4 linked regions of the Homo sapiens genome follow. The protein of the gene in region 1 purifies or fractionates together with the protein of each later gene. This does not show direct contact. Each region holds a gene or a part of one and is shown in the gene's direction. Other genes may lie near its edges.

Region 1 (3,500 bases):
TAATGATATTAGCAAATATCATTGTTATGTTGATTAAGAAGATTTAGTTGTAGAAATCTCTTGGTATTTCCAAATCCACCTGGGAGTAAGAAGTGAAATTCAGCAACGCTCCAGCATTCTGGCACAAATCCTTCCTTCTCCTCCCCTGGGTACCTTTGCTGGTTGTCCAGGAGATGGCACTGTTGCTTCAAGGGAATGGCTTCCACGAGGCCCAGGAAGAGAGCCTGGGGGCAAAGGGGTTGAGGGTTGGGGATAATATACGGCAGTCAGAAGTTAAAAGAGAAGCAGTGAGAAAAGTCTTGTTTAATGAACCTTAGGAATAATGACAAAACATGTTTAAATAATTGTCTTCCTCAATTTCCCTTTATAGGGGCGAATGTGAACATGAAGACCAACAACCAAGATGAGGAGACGCCCTTGCACACGGCTGCCCACTTCGGCCTTTCGGAGCTGGTGGCCTTCTACGTGGAACACGGGGCCATAGTGGACAGCGTGAATGCCCACATGGAGACCCCCCTGGCCATCGCCGCCTACTGGGCCCTCCGCTTTAAGGAGCAGGAGTACAGCACGGAGCACCACCTGGTCTGCCGCATGCTGCTTGACTACAAAGCCGAAGTCAATGCCCGAGATGACGACTTTAAATCTCCCCTCCACAAGGCAGCCTGGAACTGTGACCACGTGCTCATGCACATGATGCTGGAAGCTGGCGCCGAAGCCAATCTCATGGATATCAACGGCTGTGCTGCCATCCAGTACGTGCTGAAGGTCACCTCCGTGCGCCCTGCTGCCCAGCCTGAGATCTGCTACCAGCTCCTGTTGAACCATGGGGCTGCCCGAATATACCCTCCACAGTTCCATAAGGTGAGGCTCTGCCCAGTGGTCAGCAGGTTGAGGAAGATTCAAATGGCAGCCTTGTCTGAAATCTCCAAGTAACTCAAGCTTGCTTGAGGCTTGAGTCCTGGGCTAACTACCTCTGATCCTCTTTGACCTTCCATTACATACCTAATCCTAGCTGTCTCCTCATCTCATCCTAGTCTAGGTTTGCTTGAAATTGGGTGTGAGAGCTAGAATGAGAAAAAGAGTAGCAAATAATTTGTTTTGCCTTGTGTGAACACCAGTGCACTGGTGGCTTCCTGAGGGACTGAGGTAAGTCTGCCAGAAAGGTGAATAGTGTTAGACAGGCATACATTTGCCATCTTTTAAACAGAATGACTGATCTAAAGATGACTCAGCCTGCTTTGAAATTAGCTTGTAGCCATGAAAGGGCCACCCGATTTTCCAGTTTAATGAAAGCTAACGTTTATTAAGTACTAAAATTATATTTATTATGTATAATAAATAAGCACACTGTTATAAGCATTTTGTATGTCTTCATTTAATTCTTACAACAATCATACGAGGTATATATTATTATTGTCCCTATTTGACAGAGGAGGAAACTGAGGCACAGTTAAGTAGCTTACCTGAGCTCCCACAGTGCCAGTGCCAGGATTCAACCTTAGATACTTTGGTTCCAGCATCTACTCTTATGATATCACACTGCACGGTTTTTCTTAACAACATTCATAATCTCAAACAGGCTGGTAGGGACCAGTTGCTACCAGTATTGATATGACTAAGACATGGGACGTATCCTCAAGAAGCTTAGAATCTAGCAGATGAGACAAGCAAATAAAGGGGTAATTTTAATATGCTGTGGTAAATGACAAGGTAGAAGAATAATGAGTGCTACAGAAATATGGAAGAGAGTGAATTTTGCATAGTTTTATAGCTAGTAATTAATTTGGAGGCCAAAATGCATTTTACCTGAAAATAAATCAAATAATACTATACTTAGGTTTCCCCCTTGCTCTAAAAATTTAATTAACAACAAGAAGAGTTTGAAGTATACAACAACTGACTAATTAGGCCACAGAAAGCAAAGTAACAGATGTTTTTCTGAATTCACAGCTTAAGTTCTACGTCTTACCTGGGTAAAATGTCAGGGACTTGTCTGAAGTCCTGCAGTGTGAGGCTTAGTTAGAAGAAAAGTTCTACTAGAGAATTTAAGGGTAGTGCCTTCAGTCAGGGCAGATTCCAGATGGACAAACCAGAGAACTTTCAAATGAAGATTTGATGGGTTCAGCAATCCTGTGATCTCAATAGGAATTTTCTCTTGGTTATCAGGATGCTAATGGAAGATTAACTAATTCTTTTTTAAAAAATTATATGTAAAGCCCAGAATGTCATGAATTTTCCAAAAGTTTTTTAGGGAACTACAAATGATTAAGATGAGGAATAGAATAAGAATAATGTTACAGTAACTGTCCTGTGTTGAGCTCTAAATAGGTTTTATACAGACTATTTCATTTTATTTTTATAATGGACTCTGAGGTGGGCACTGGCATTACTCACATTTAAAAGGTGACTAAGCTAAAGCTAATAGTGTTAATATATTTTCATAAAGTCACACAGAGTAAGTGTCAAGTTCACTCATTTGTTTATTTAACAAATATTTACTTAACACCTCCGAAGTGTCAGGTACTGTTCTATTTGCTGGAGGTAGAGCAATGAACCAAAGGCCTTCATGAAAGATACTTTCTAGTGGGAGACAGGAAACAAACAAAACAACAACCAAATAAATATACTCTGATATGTTAGGTGCTATGGAGAAAAAGCAGGGCAAAAAAAAAAAAAAAGAGAATGCCAGATTATGTGTGCTACTTTAAGTTGATTAGAAAAAATAAGGATGTGGGGGGCTGGGTGCAGTGGCTCACCCCTGTAATCCTAGCACTTTGGGAGGCTGAGGCGGGCGGATTGCTTGAGTTCAGGAGTTCAAGGACAGACAGCCTGGGCAACACGGTGAAACCCTGTCTCTAATAAAATACAAAAAATTAGCTGGGTGTTGTGGCGTGCGCCTGTAGTCCCAGCTACTTGGGAGGCTGAGGCAGGAGAATGGCTTGAACCCGGGAGGCAGAGGTTGCAGTGAGCCGAGATTGTGCCACTGCACTTCACCCTGGGTGACAGAGCGAGACTCTGTCTCCAAAAGAAAAAATAAGGATGTGGAGGAACAAGCCATGCAAATACCTGATGGGGAGGTGGGGAGAGCATTCCAGGCCTAAGGAAAAGCAGGTGCAAGGGTCCTGAGGTAGGAGAGGGCTAAGCATGTTTGAGGGAGAGCAAGGAAGCCTCAGTGGCTGAAGTGGAGTGAGCAAGGGGAAGATAAATCCAAGAGGTATATATGTGGGTTGTTTGCAGACCATATATGTCGCCTTGTAAGCTGTGGGAATGTTCTTGGTGTTATACTCTGCATGGGAGAGGAAGTCACTGAAAGATTTTGAGTTGAGAAAAATAAAAGTCTGATTTATATTCTAAAATGGTCCTTTTGACTGCCTTTCAGAGAATAACTCTGAGTGGGGGGCTGGCAAATTTGCAATAATTTAGATGAGAGATGAGGGTAACTTAGATTCACAGTGGAATAGTGAAGGTGGTGAGAATCATGGACTTTGGGGTCAAACTTG
Region 2 (3,500 bases), on another chromosome or scaffold:
CAAGTGATCCTCCCACCTCATTCTCTCAAGTAGCTGGGTCTATGGGTGTGCTACCATGCCCACAAAAAATGTAAAAATTAGTGAGACCACGTCTCACTGTTTGCCCACGCTGGTCTTGTATCCTCATATGATCCTCCTGCCTTGGCTTCCCAAAATGCTGAGATTATAGGAGTGAGTCATCGTGCCCATCCTGAAATGTTTTCTTTAGGGTATTTAAACTTTTTTGTTAATATTGTCAAGGATCTGTGGAATGATAATTTTGTCTATGAAGCCACTCTGGAAGTTTAAATTAAGACACCACTATTTAAAAGTTCCTGGCTAGATCATTCATGTTGACTTTATCCACATGAGTTTATGTTAATTTTAACCTAATACCGTTAAATATTATTTTTCTTTTTAACTTTAAGAACCCCCAGTCGGATCTTCAGGCCCAGGATAGATGTCATAGAATTGGTCAGACAAAGCCAGTTGTTGTTTATCGCCTTGTTACAGCAAATACTATCGATCAGAAAATTGTGGAAAGAGCAGCTGCTAAAAGGAAACTGGAAAAGTTGATCATCCATAAAAGTAAATAACACTTATGTAGTGCTTTATTGTTTAAATTGTGCATTGTGTGTTGTGGATTTTGTTTTTATTTTGTTTATAAAATATTACAGCCTGGGCCGAGTTCTGTGTCTCACACCTGTAATCCTAGTACTTTGGGATGCCAAGGTGAGTGGATCACGAGGTCAGGAGTTCGAGACCAGGCTGGCCAAGATGGTGAAACCGCGTCTCTACTAACAATACAAAAATTAGCTGGGCTCGGTGGCGGGCGCCTGTAATCCCAGCTACTCAGGAAGCTGAGGCAGGAGAATCGCTTGAACCCGGGAGGAGGAGGTTGCAGTGAGCCGAGATCGTGCCACTGCACTCTAGCCTGGGTAACAGAACAAGACTCTGTCTCAAAAAAAAAAATATTAACAGCCTGATATGACAGGATTTAAATAAGCAGTGGGGAATTTGGGAGCCTAAACTAAGTTGGTCACCATAGACATAAAAGAAAGAATGTTAGCGAGTATGTAGATATGTAGATGAAGAGCAGATGGGCAGAGAAAAGGGGTCAAGGATAACTACATGTTCCTGATAAGAGATTGGCTTGCTAAAAGTTTTAAGATAAATATTTTGCAAGTTCCATGTATTAAAATATTAAGTGTATTTAAGTGTTATAAAAAATCTATTTATTTATTGAACCCACTGTTTCACAGAATATTTCACTGCAGAATGCCCTTTTTATAGTTTTGGACACTTTTTTTTCCTTTTTCATTTCCTTATCATAACCAGATGGGTCTCAACAATGCTTTTTAATCTAGAAAAAATTCTGAGGAGGTGGGGAACTGACATAGGTGAAAAAGTTTTGTTCCTGAGATTCCTTAGAGAAGTTATACTTCTATCCATTCACCATAAAATTTTCTTTGAATAAATGGCTTGATAGCTACCTGAAGAAATGTTGAAAATCATTTATGTAAATCATCAAGCCCTAGAGAAATGGGAACATGATAATGTTAATGTGAAAAGTAATGTTGGAAATCACTAATAATTTATTTTATACTCCTTTTCCACTTGTAAATACTTTCTCTGGGTTTTGAGGTAAGAGTGTATTAAGGTTTAGACAAAATTAATTTGGTGAAACATTTAGATTGTAATTGGAACTTGCATTGGGGAAAAAGCATAATTTTTTTTTAAGAGACCATTTAACTTTTTTACCCAGGTTGTTCTCGAACACCTGGACTCAAGTGATCCTCCTGCCTTAGCCTCTTCAAGTGTTGGGCTTATAGGTGTGAGCCACTGTGCTCAGCCCTATTTTCGATTTTTTAGTAGATTAATTTTGTAGAAAATTTTGAAGGGATTTTTTTAAATGCTGACATTTTTCAGTTGAGTTATTACATACATACAGCAAAATGCACAGATCTTAAATGTACAGGTTAATGAAGTTTGACCAGATTTATGTACTCCTATGTAACTATCATCGAGATCAAGGTAGCATTTTCATCATCCAAGAAATTTTCTTTGTTCACCCTTTCCAGTAATTCCTATGCTCCCCTTACCATCACTAGGAAGCATCCAGTATTCTGATTTTTGTCACACTGATGAGTCTTTTTTCTGTTTAGCTATTTTGTTGAATATATTTTTTCAACACAGAGTCATCTGTGTTGTTTTTAGTAGAATTTTTTTCTTTTAATTGGTGAATAGTTTGTTTTTTCCATTCTCCTGTTGGTCGACATTTAAATTATTTCTAGATTCTGGTTATTATGAATAAGTTGGTCCTGTACAAGTCTTTGTGGACATAATGCATTTTTTGGTCCTTGATCTTAGGGAGGGTGCGTGTTTAACTACTGGAAACTACCAGCCTTTTCCAAAGTGGACATATCATTTTCCAGTCCTACCAGCGAAGCCTGAGAGCTTCATTTGCTTTTATTTTTTATCAACACTTTTTTTTGCCGTCCTTCTTAATGCAAGCCATTGTGATTGGTTTGTAATATGTTGTATTGTAGTTTTAAAAGGAATTTTAATGTTTTTAATTTCTCATTTTTTTTAGATCATTTCAAAGGTGGTCAGTCTGGATTAAATCTGTCTAAGAATTTCTTAGATCCTAAGGAATTAATGGAATTATTAAAATCTAGAGATTATGAAAGGTGAGTTTTTAATTTTAGAAAGATTTAATTTGTAGCTTTGAATTATTCACATAGACTTGAATATTTTGTTTTCTATAGGGAAATAAAAGGATCAAGAGAGAAGGTCATTAGTGATAAAGATCTAGAGTTGTTGTTAGATCGAAGTGATCTTATTGGTAAGTATTATGCTTTTTTTTAATGGAAGCTTCGAAACATACACTTAATTAGCATAATGTAATGAACCCCTTGTGCAATTCATTCAGCCACATGTATCCAATCTTGTTTTATTGTCATTTTTCTTCTTAGAGTATTAAAATCAAATCTCAGACATGACATTTTGCCCATAAATGTCATTATCTTTAACTTCTTCCATAATTCAGATATTTTCTGTAAACTGGTAAATAACACTTGTAAATGAATATATTCAAGTTCCTGTCTTAGTTAAGAATACCAGTGCTTTGTTCTCATATTTTTCGTCATACCAGGAGGCACATCGTATCTGGATTTCTTATTTCCAGTGAGCTAAGATTAATCAAGATAATGTTATAAAGTGTCTTGTCAGCCTTCATCCTTTACTTAACACGATGATTTATTTTATTTTATTTTATTTTTTTGGAGACAGAGTCTTGCCCTGTCGCCCAGGCTGGAGTGCGCTGACACGATCTCAGCTCACTGCAACCTCAGCCTCCTGGGTTCAAGGGATTCTCCTGCCTCAGCCTCCCTAGTAGCTAGTATTACAGTCGCCTGCCACCACACCTGGCTAATTTTTGTATCTTTAGTAGAGACAGGGTTTCGCCATGTTGGCCAGGCTGGTCTTGAACTCCTGATTTCAGGTGTTGTGCCCACCCCAGC
Region 3 (3,500 bases), on another chromosome or scaffold:
ACTTTCCCAACAGTTGCACTGTAGCCACTATCAGAGCTGCCCAACTTGATTGCAAAGCGTTCTCATGCTTAGTTGCCTCATGGGGTCTCACCAACTGCTGTAAAATGTGATACTGTCGATCCCGTTTTACAGAAGAGGAAACTGAGGCTCAGAGAGGGGAAGGAACTTGACTGGGGTCACACAGCTGTTTCCTGCCGTACATTTGGCAGTGGTGTCCCTTCCCCAGCATGCCACATGTCAAATCGGGACAGACTTGCTCCAGCGGCCCTGTGCATGGCACAGCCAGGCTATCCTCAGCCTAGTGGAGCCCTGCCGGCGGGCCCCCACCCCCACCCCACTGTCCTCACTCCCTAGCCTCCATTTTCGCCACTTCCACTCTCTGGGCCCCTGGTGTGCACCCAAGGGAGCTTTATGGAATCGAGACTCTGTCCCGGTCAGGGCTCAGTCCATCGTGAAGGTGGCACACTGGATGGGATAAAGGATGACAACAAAAGCAGGAGAAGATTTCTTAACCCAATGGGGGAACATCAGGAGGCTTCCAAGAATCAGACCCTGAATCAAACTTGCTAACACCTGAGGTCATTGCTGTACTGGCAGCTTCATGAATGGTGTCTGAATGAAGGATGGCCCTCAATTCTGTAACTACAGCATCCTTTTCATCATCTCTGCAAGGGGCCCCTCTGTCCTCATGGGCATGTCACATCCTGTCACTTGAACACAGGAAGTGAGGCTGTGAGGAGTTTGTGGTGTGTGAGATGTGGGCTGCTTGGCCAGGCCAGTGGAGCACTCGCCTACCCATGCCTGTTCAATCATTCATTCACTGCCTGGAACTGTCCCGACCCCTCTCTTCCTTCTGTTTGGGGGACATGATGACCTGCCGGCCCCCGCAGGAGGCAGTGGTCTCCCTCTGGTGGGATGCCCTGACCTGCTGCTTGCAGTGGGGCCTTCATGAAGGAAGCGAAGCCCTGGTGGGTCTCCCCTAGACAGAAGAAGGGACACTGGTGGGACTGGGCCTGGAACATTCCACACACACACACACCTCCAAGAAACTTGTGCATTGAGCCTTCACCATTATCACCTTGGCTGGGTCAGTTCTGCAGGCACAGTTATCAGCATCTGCTGGACAGTGGGCCTGGGCTGGATGCCAGGGAAGAGCAGCCCCAGCCCACCGAGAGAGATGCAGGGAGGGAACCGGAGGCCCAGTCTTCACTCAAGCACGTGTGATGACCGGTAGCCTTTCTTGCCATGCAGTGATCACTATTAAAAATGGTTATTATGAATGACCCACACAGCACTGGGCTATTTTCCAAGAATGCTGTAGCATCTATCCACCCTTTACAGCCCCAGGAAGCCACTGGGCAGGTCCTGGTTATAACTCAGAAAGACTGGGATATGCAGCCAAGGCCGCATAACCAGGCCTGGGCCTTCACTTCCCTGCCTTCAGCTAGTGTTCATGGTGCACCTGCTGTATGTCCAGCTCAGTGCTGGGAACCACTGAGAGGGTGCTGCTCTCAGGGGATACTGCAGGGGAGAAGGACACAGAGAAATGAAGAAGATAGAGAGCCCAATGGGAATGGATTGAGTGAACTGTGTGGCCACTCAGGAAGTGAGGAGGGCTTCCTGGAGGAGGTGACCTTTGAACAGAAATCTAAATGATTAGGAGGAACTATCCAGGAGAAGAGTGGGGGCCCCGGGTGCAGGGGACAGCAAGTGCAGAGGCCCTGGTGAGGGCATGCTTGACAGGATTGGGCCACAGAGGGAGGATGGTGTTGCTGGAGCAGAGTGGACCAAGAAGAGAGGTAAAGGGGCTGGGGCTGTTCATGGAGGCCCTGGAGTAAAGAGTCACATCGTCATGCTGGAAGCTAAAGATATGAAGAAAAGACTGGGGGTTAAAGAGGTTGGGGAACTGCATTGGGGCCTCCCAACCATGAGGGGGTGTCATGAGCCTGGGGCCTGAAAATTCAGAGGCCTGGCCACTGCCTCTGCCCCTTTGCAAGGCCAGGGCCCAGGCCTGCTCCCCGTTGTATACCCAAAGCTGGCATGGCCTGGCATGATGTTGGGACTTAGAGACCCTGTCTGGGGTGAATTTTAGAGACTGAGAGGAACAGACTTTTCTGGTAGTTGCTGGACAGGCAGGGCAACAAGTAGCGTCTGCTTAGGCAAGCACCTACCTCTGACCCACCTGCCACCATCTTCCACCAAAGGATCCGTGAAGGACAGGTCCGACATCCACATCCTCCCTGGGCCTCAGAGGAAGCGTAAGGCCTGGATTGGCCCCAGCCCCGGGGCAGGACCCTGCTGGGCCTTGGTCAGCCCATGGTCAGCATCTTTTCCCAAGTGCCCCAAGCACAGGCACTGGGCCTAAGCCTCCTGCTCTATGTGGTGGGGCTGATACTCCCCTTCCAGGGTTTGCCTGCGGGCCAGCAAGCAGGCTGGGCCCCAAGCTCAACAAGTGTCACGCCATCCTTGTCCCTCCCTGGAGGCCCTTTGTTGAAGCCCCCCAAGGCCCCCTGTGCCCCTAAAGGACCTGGCACCATCTCCTCAGGGCCCTGGCCTGCCTCCTTGCACTGACTCACTTGGTCTTTAAGAATAACAACAAAAGTGCCTTATCTTGTTGAATCCCACAACTCTGGCAGGGTGGTTGTGTGCCATCCTGTTTTCCAGGGAAGTGCCTTGCTCAGGGTCACAGCCAGTGAGTCTGCCTGACTCCAGACCCTGCTCCTCCCCAGCCAGATCTGTGTGCCCTTGTGGGTGGGGCCAGTGGGCACCCAGTGCACAGAGATGGGATGAGGAAGGGAAGGAGGGTGGTCAGGGGGCCCAGGTGTTGGGGGACCTGACGCCTTACCCTGAGCAGGTTCCAGATCTCTTGGCCGCAAGGCTCTGTCCCTCCCCACCCCTTCCCCACTGCATGCACTACCTGGAATGTGTTGGTCACTGCCACTGTGGCATGGCTGCCCCCAGCCTGCTTGTCCTGGGTGCTGAGGGTACTTGTCCCACAGTGGCTGGGAGCCCCCCACCCAATGCCTGTGGACCAGACCAGTTTTGTCACCACCAGTGGGGGCTTAGGAGGCGTTGCTCCTGGGTGCTGGCTAAGCTGCTCCCAGGCTTACCTTAGAGCCTGCTGCTTTCCCCCAAAAGCCTACTGACGACACAGCCCCCGTCTGCCCTTCCCGCTCTTTCCAGCCTGTTGGATGGCTCCTGTTCTCTCAAATCTCACTCTTACCCCCAGGAGGCTCCCTGCAGGCAGAGTGGATGAAAATATCCTGCCCCTTGGTCTCTGAGGCCCTGGCCCACCTGGGGCCTTACAGAGCAGGACAAGGAGGCTCCACTCCAGCTCTGTCCCTGCCTCACTATGTGACCCTGGGCAGGCTGCTTGCCCTCTCTGGGCCTCTGACCTCATCTGGAAAGTTCCTGGTTATGCTGCGACACACAGGGGACTGGGAGTGGGAGGAGTGGTGTCTGCCAGGCACAGCAGCTCCAGGCATGCTGGCTCATTCACA
Region 4 (3,500 bases), on another chromosome or scaffold:
AAGTGATCCGCCCACCTCCACCTCCCAAAGTGCTGAGATTACAGGCGTGAGCCACTGCGCACGGCCAGTTTTATTTATTTGTTTTTATTATAAAGTTTTTCTTGTAGAGACAGGGTCTTGCTCTGTTGCTCAGGCTGGTCTTGAACTCCTGGCCTCAAGCGATCCTCAGCCACCCAAAGTGCTGGGGTTCCTACAGGTGTGAGCCACTATGCCTGGACCCAAGTTGCTGGTTTTAATCCCAGCTCCAGGTCACACACAGTGGCCACCCCATAAGTGGAGTGCGCGTTGCCAGGGATGCAACTGTGGATGCCAGGACAGGTTGGCAGCTTCAGTAGTCCTTACGTCTTCCACAGCTTCGGTAGTCTGTACTTCTTCCACACTGTAGAACCATCTGTGGCTCCCAGCTTCTCCCACCCACCCCGTTCTCAAGCATACCTTTCAATGTCCTTTGTGCCCCGGCCCTGCCCCTTTACTCACCTTCCTCTCCACCCTGGGGCTCTCTGAACTTCTCATGCTTCTCTGTCAAACCCAAGCTCCAAGGTTACCCCTTCCCTGGAGGCCAGGAAGGGTGCACCTGTCCGGCCTCCCCACCTAGACAAGAGTCACACAGGCCTGGCACCAGCCCTCTCCCCAGTAGCTACGTGCTGTTCTCTGAGCTTCAGTTCTCTTGATCCTAGAGGGGGTCCGAGTGCTTTCTGGGCAGACTGTGGTCATTCAAACCCTCTGAGTTCCCACCCATCTGCTGGAGGCTCCAGTTCATTCATTTGCTATATCTTTTTTTTTTTTTTTTTTTGGGATGGAGTCTCGCTCTGTTGCCCAGGCTGGAGTGCAATGGCACGATCCCGGTTCACTGCAAGCTCCACCTCCCAGGTTCAAGCGATCCTCCTGCCTCAGCCCCCCTAGTATGTGGGATTACAGGCACGTGCCACTATGCCCAGCTGGTTTTTGTATTTTCAGTAGAGACGGGGTTTCGCCATGTTGGCCAGGCTGGTCTCACACTCCTGACCTCAGGTGATCCACCCACCTCAGCCTCCCAGAGTGCTGGGACTACAGGTGTGAGCCACTGCGCCTGGCCATTGGCTAGATCTTTATTGAGGGTCTACTGTGTGCTAAGCCTATGCCAGACTTGACCTGCCCCATCTCACTGAGGCCCATAATGTGCCCCAGGAAAGGTCCTGCAGCTCCCAGGTCACAGATGGGGAGGCAGAGGCTGCAAGAGGTAAAGAATAGGTAAAAACTGAGGGGATAGCAGCACTCAGAGAGGCTGAGGCAGGAGGATCCCTCGAGCCTAGGAATCGAGACCAGCCCGGCCAACATGGCGAAACCCTGTCTCTACAAAAAAAAAAATACAAAAATTAGGCATGGTGGCACACTCCTGCAGCCCCAGCTACTCTGGAGGCTGAGGCAGGAGGATTACTTGAGCCTGGGCGGTCGAGGCTGCAGTGAGCTATGATCTTGTCACCGCTCTCCAGTCTAGGCAACAAAGCAAGACCCTGTCTCCAAAACAAAACAAAAATCATGGGCTGGGATTCAAACCCAGTTTCTCTGGTGGGTCAGCAAAGAAAATTTCAGATTCCAAAGCTTGAGGGCTGGGGGTGAGGGGAGGCAGCCCTGTCTGGGAGACAGGCAAAGTGGAGACCCAAAAGCACAGGCGTCTCCCTCCAGCCGGCCAGCAAAGGTGCTCTAGGGGACCTCCGGCCCTGCTCCTGCTGAGACCCCAACATGTACCCTCCTTTCTCACCCCGCTTGCCAGGCACCCTGGGTGAATCTGTGCTCCGTGGCAGCCTCTCCCCCTGCATGTTCCCAGGGACAGGAACCAGGGCAGGTGCTTGGTCATGGTTGGGTCTTCAGTGTCTTGCCAGGGCCTGTACACAGAAGGTGTTCTGTGGCTAATGAATGAATGAATGAGTGAGTGATGTTGAAGGCAGGGCCTGGACTGGAAGCTGCTCAGGGCTCGCTCTCTCTGCTGTCGGCACAGGCTAAGGCTAGTGATTTTAGGTTGTTCCCCTCAGCTGGGGGCGACCCCTGGCTCACTGTCTCCCCTCCTGTCCCTTGTTCCTGGCTGCAGCCCCAGAGGCTCCTCTTCTCCTCCCATCCCCGCAGGCCCCAGGTTTTCCCGACAGCTGGGGACAGTGCTGGGGTGTTGGTGGGGACCATGCCATGGTTTTCCTGTCCATACACTGCAGAGCCCTAGGAAGAAAGGCTCTGCTAGGAAACCTCCACACTGCAGACCCAACTGAGAGTTCTGGCGTTAGTACAGTGTACATGTTCCCTTCATTCCCCGAGAGGTTTTTTTCTTTTCATTTTGAGACAGGGTCTTGCTCTTGTCGCCCAGGCTGGAGTACAGTGGCTCAGTCTCGGCTCACTGCAGCCTCCACCTCCCAGGTTCAAGCAGTTCTTTCACCTCAGCCTCCCGAGTAGCTGGGATTACAGGTATCTGCCACCACCACGCCAGGCTCATTTTTGTATTTTTAGTAGAGACGGGGTTTCGCCATGTTGGCCAGGCCGGTCTCGAACTCCTGACCTCAGGTCATCCGCCTGCCTCCACCTCCCAAAGTGCTGGGATTACAGGTGTGAGTCACCACGCCTAGCGGTTTCTTGTTGTTGTTGTTTTGTTTTGTTGTTTTTGAGACAGGGTCTGGTTCTGTTGCTCTGTCCTGAGTGCAGTGGTGTGATTGTAGCTCACTGCAGCCTCAACCTCCTGGGCTCAGACGATCCTCCCACCTCTGCCTCCCAAGTAGCTGGGACCACAGGTGCGCACCAACACACCCAGCTAATTTTCTTTTCTTTTCTTTTCTTTTGAGGCGGAGTCTCACTCTGTCGCCCAGGCTGGAGTGCAGTGGTGCAATCTCGGCTCACTGCAAGCTCTGCCTCCCGGGTTCAAGCGATTCTCCTGCCTCAGCCTCCCGAGTAACTGGGATTACAGGCGCCCGCCACCACGCCCGGCTAATTTTTGTATTTTTAGTGGAGATGGGGTTTCACCATGTTGGTCAGTCTGGTCTCGAACTCCTGACCTCGTGATCCACTGTGCCCGGTCCACACCTGGCTAATTTTTTTTTTTTTTTGAGACGGAGTCTCACTCTGTCGCCCAGGCTAGAGTGCAGTGGCGCGATCTCAGCTCACTGCAACCTCCATCTCCCAGGTTCACGCCATTCTTCTGCCTCAGCCTCCCAAGTAGCTGGGACTACAGGCGCCCACCACCACACCCGGCTAATTTTTTGTATTTTTAGTAGAGACGGGGTTTCACCGTGTTAGCTAGGATGGTCTTGATCTCCTGACCTCGTGATCCACCCATTTTGGCCTCCCAAAGTGCTGGGATTACAGGTGTGAGCCACCGTGCCCGGCCACACCTGGCTAATTTTTAAAAATTTTTTGTAGAGGCCGGATATGGTGGCTCACACCTGTAATCCTAGCACTTTGGGAGGCTGAGATGGGAGGATCACCTGAGCCCAAGAGTTCCAGACCAGCCTGGGCAACATAATAAGACCCTGTCTCTGCAG

The links. The genes of interacting proteins can lie anywhere in the genome.
Region 2: the proteins of ASB4 (region 1) and HELLS purify together in Homo sapiens (co-immunoprecipitation; one large-scale study listed by IntAct). This does not show direct contact.
Region 3: the proteins of ASB4 (region 1) and IQSEC1 purify together in Homo sapiens (affinity purification with mass spectrometry; one large-scale study listed by BioGRID and IntAct). This does not show direct contact.
Region 4: the proteins of ASB4 (region 1) and MEX3D purify together in Homo sapiens (co-immunoprecipitation; one large-scale study listed by IntAct). This does not show direct contact.

Annotation. Positions count from the first base shown.
Region 1 is NC_000007.14:95,527,443-95,530,942, forward strand, and holds part of ASB4 (ankyrin repeat and SOCS box protein 4), read left to right. Parts: intron 1-370; coding exon 371-861; coding exon of another isoform or gene 862-933; exon of another isoform or gene 934-1,359; intron 1,360-3,500.
Region 2 is NC_000010.11:94,594,288-94,597,787, forward strand, and holds part of HELLS (lymphoid-specific helicase), read left to right. Parts: intron 1-407; coding exon 408-567; intron 568-2,572; coding exon 2,573-2,669; intron 2,670-2,747; coding exon 2,748-2,824; intron 2,825-3,500. UniProt on the Homo sapiens protein: Plays an essential role in normal development and survival. Involved in regulation of the expansion or survival of lymphoid cells. Required for de novo or maintenance DNA methylation. May control silencing of the imprinted CDKN1C gene through DNA methylation.
Region 3 is NC_000003.12:13,066,930-13,070,429, reverse strand, and holds part of IQSEC1 (IQ motif and SEC7 domain-containing protein 1), read left to right. Parts: intron 1-3,500. UniProt on the Homo sapiens protein: Guanine nucleotide exchange factor for ARF1 and ARF6. Guanine nucleotide exchange factor activity is enhanced by lipid binding. Accelerates GTP binding by ARFs of all three classes.
Region 4 is NC_000019.10:1,561,826-1,565,325, reverse strand, and holds part of MEX3D (RNA-binding protein MEX3D), read left to right. Parts: intron 1-3,500.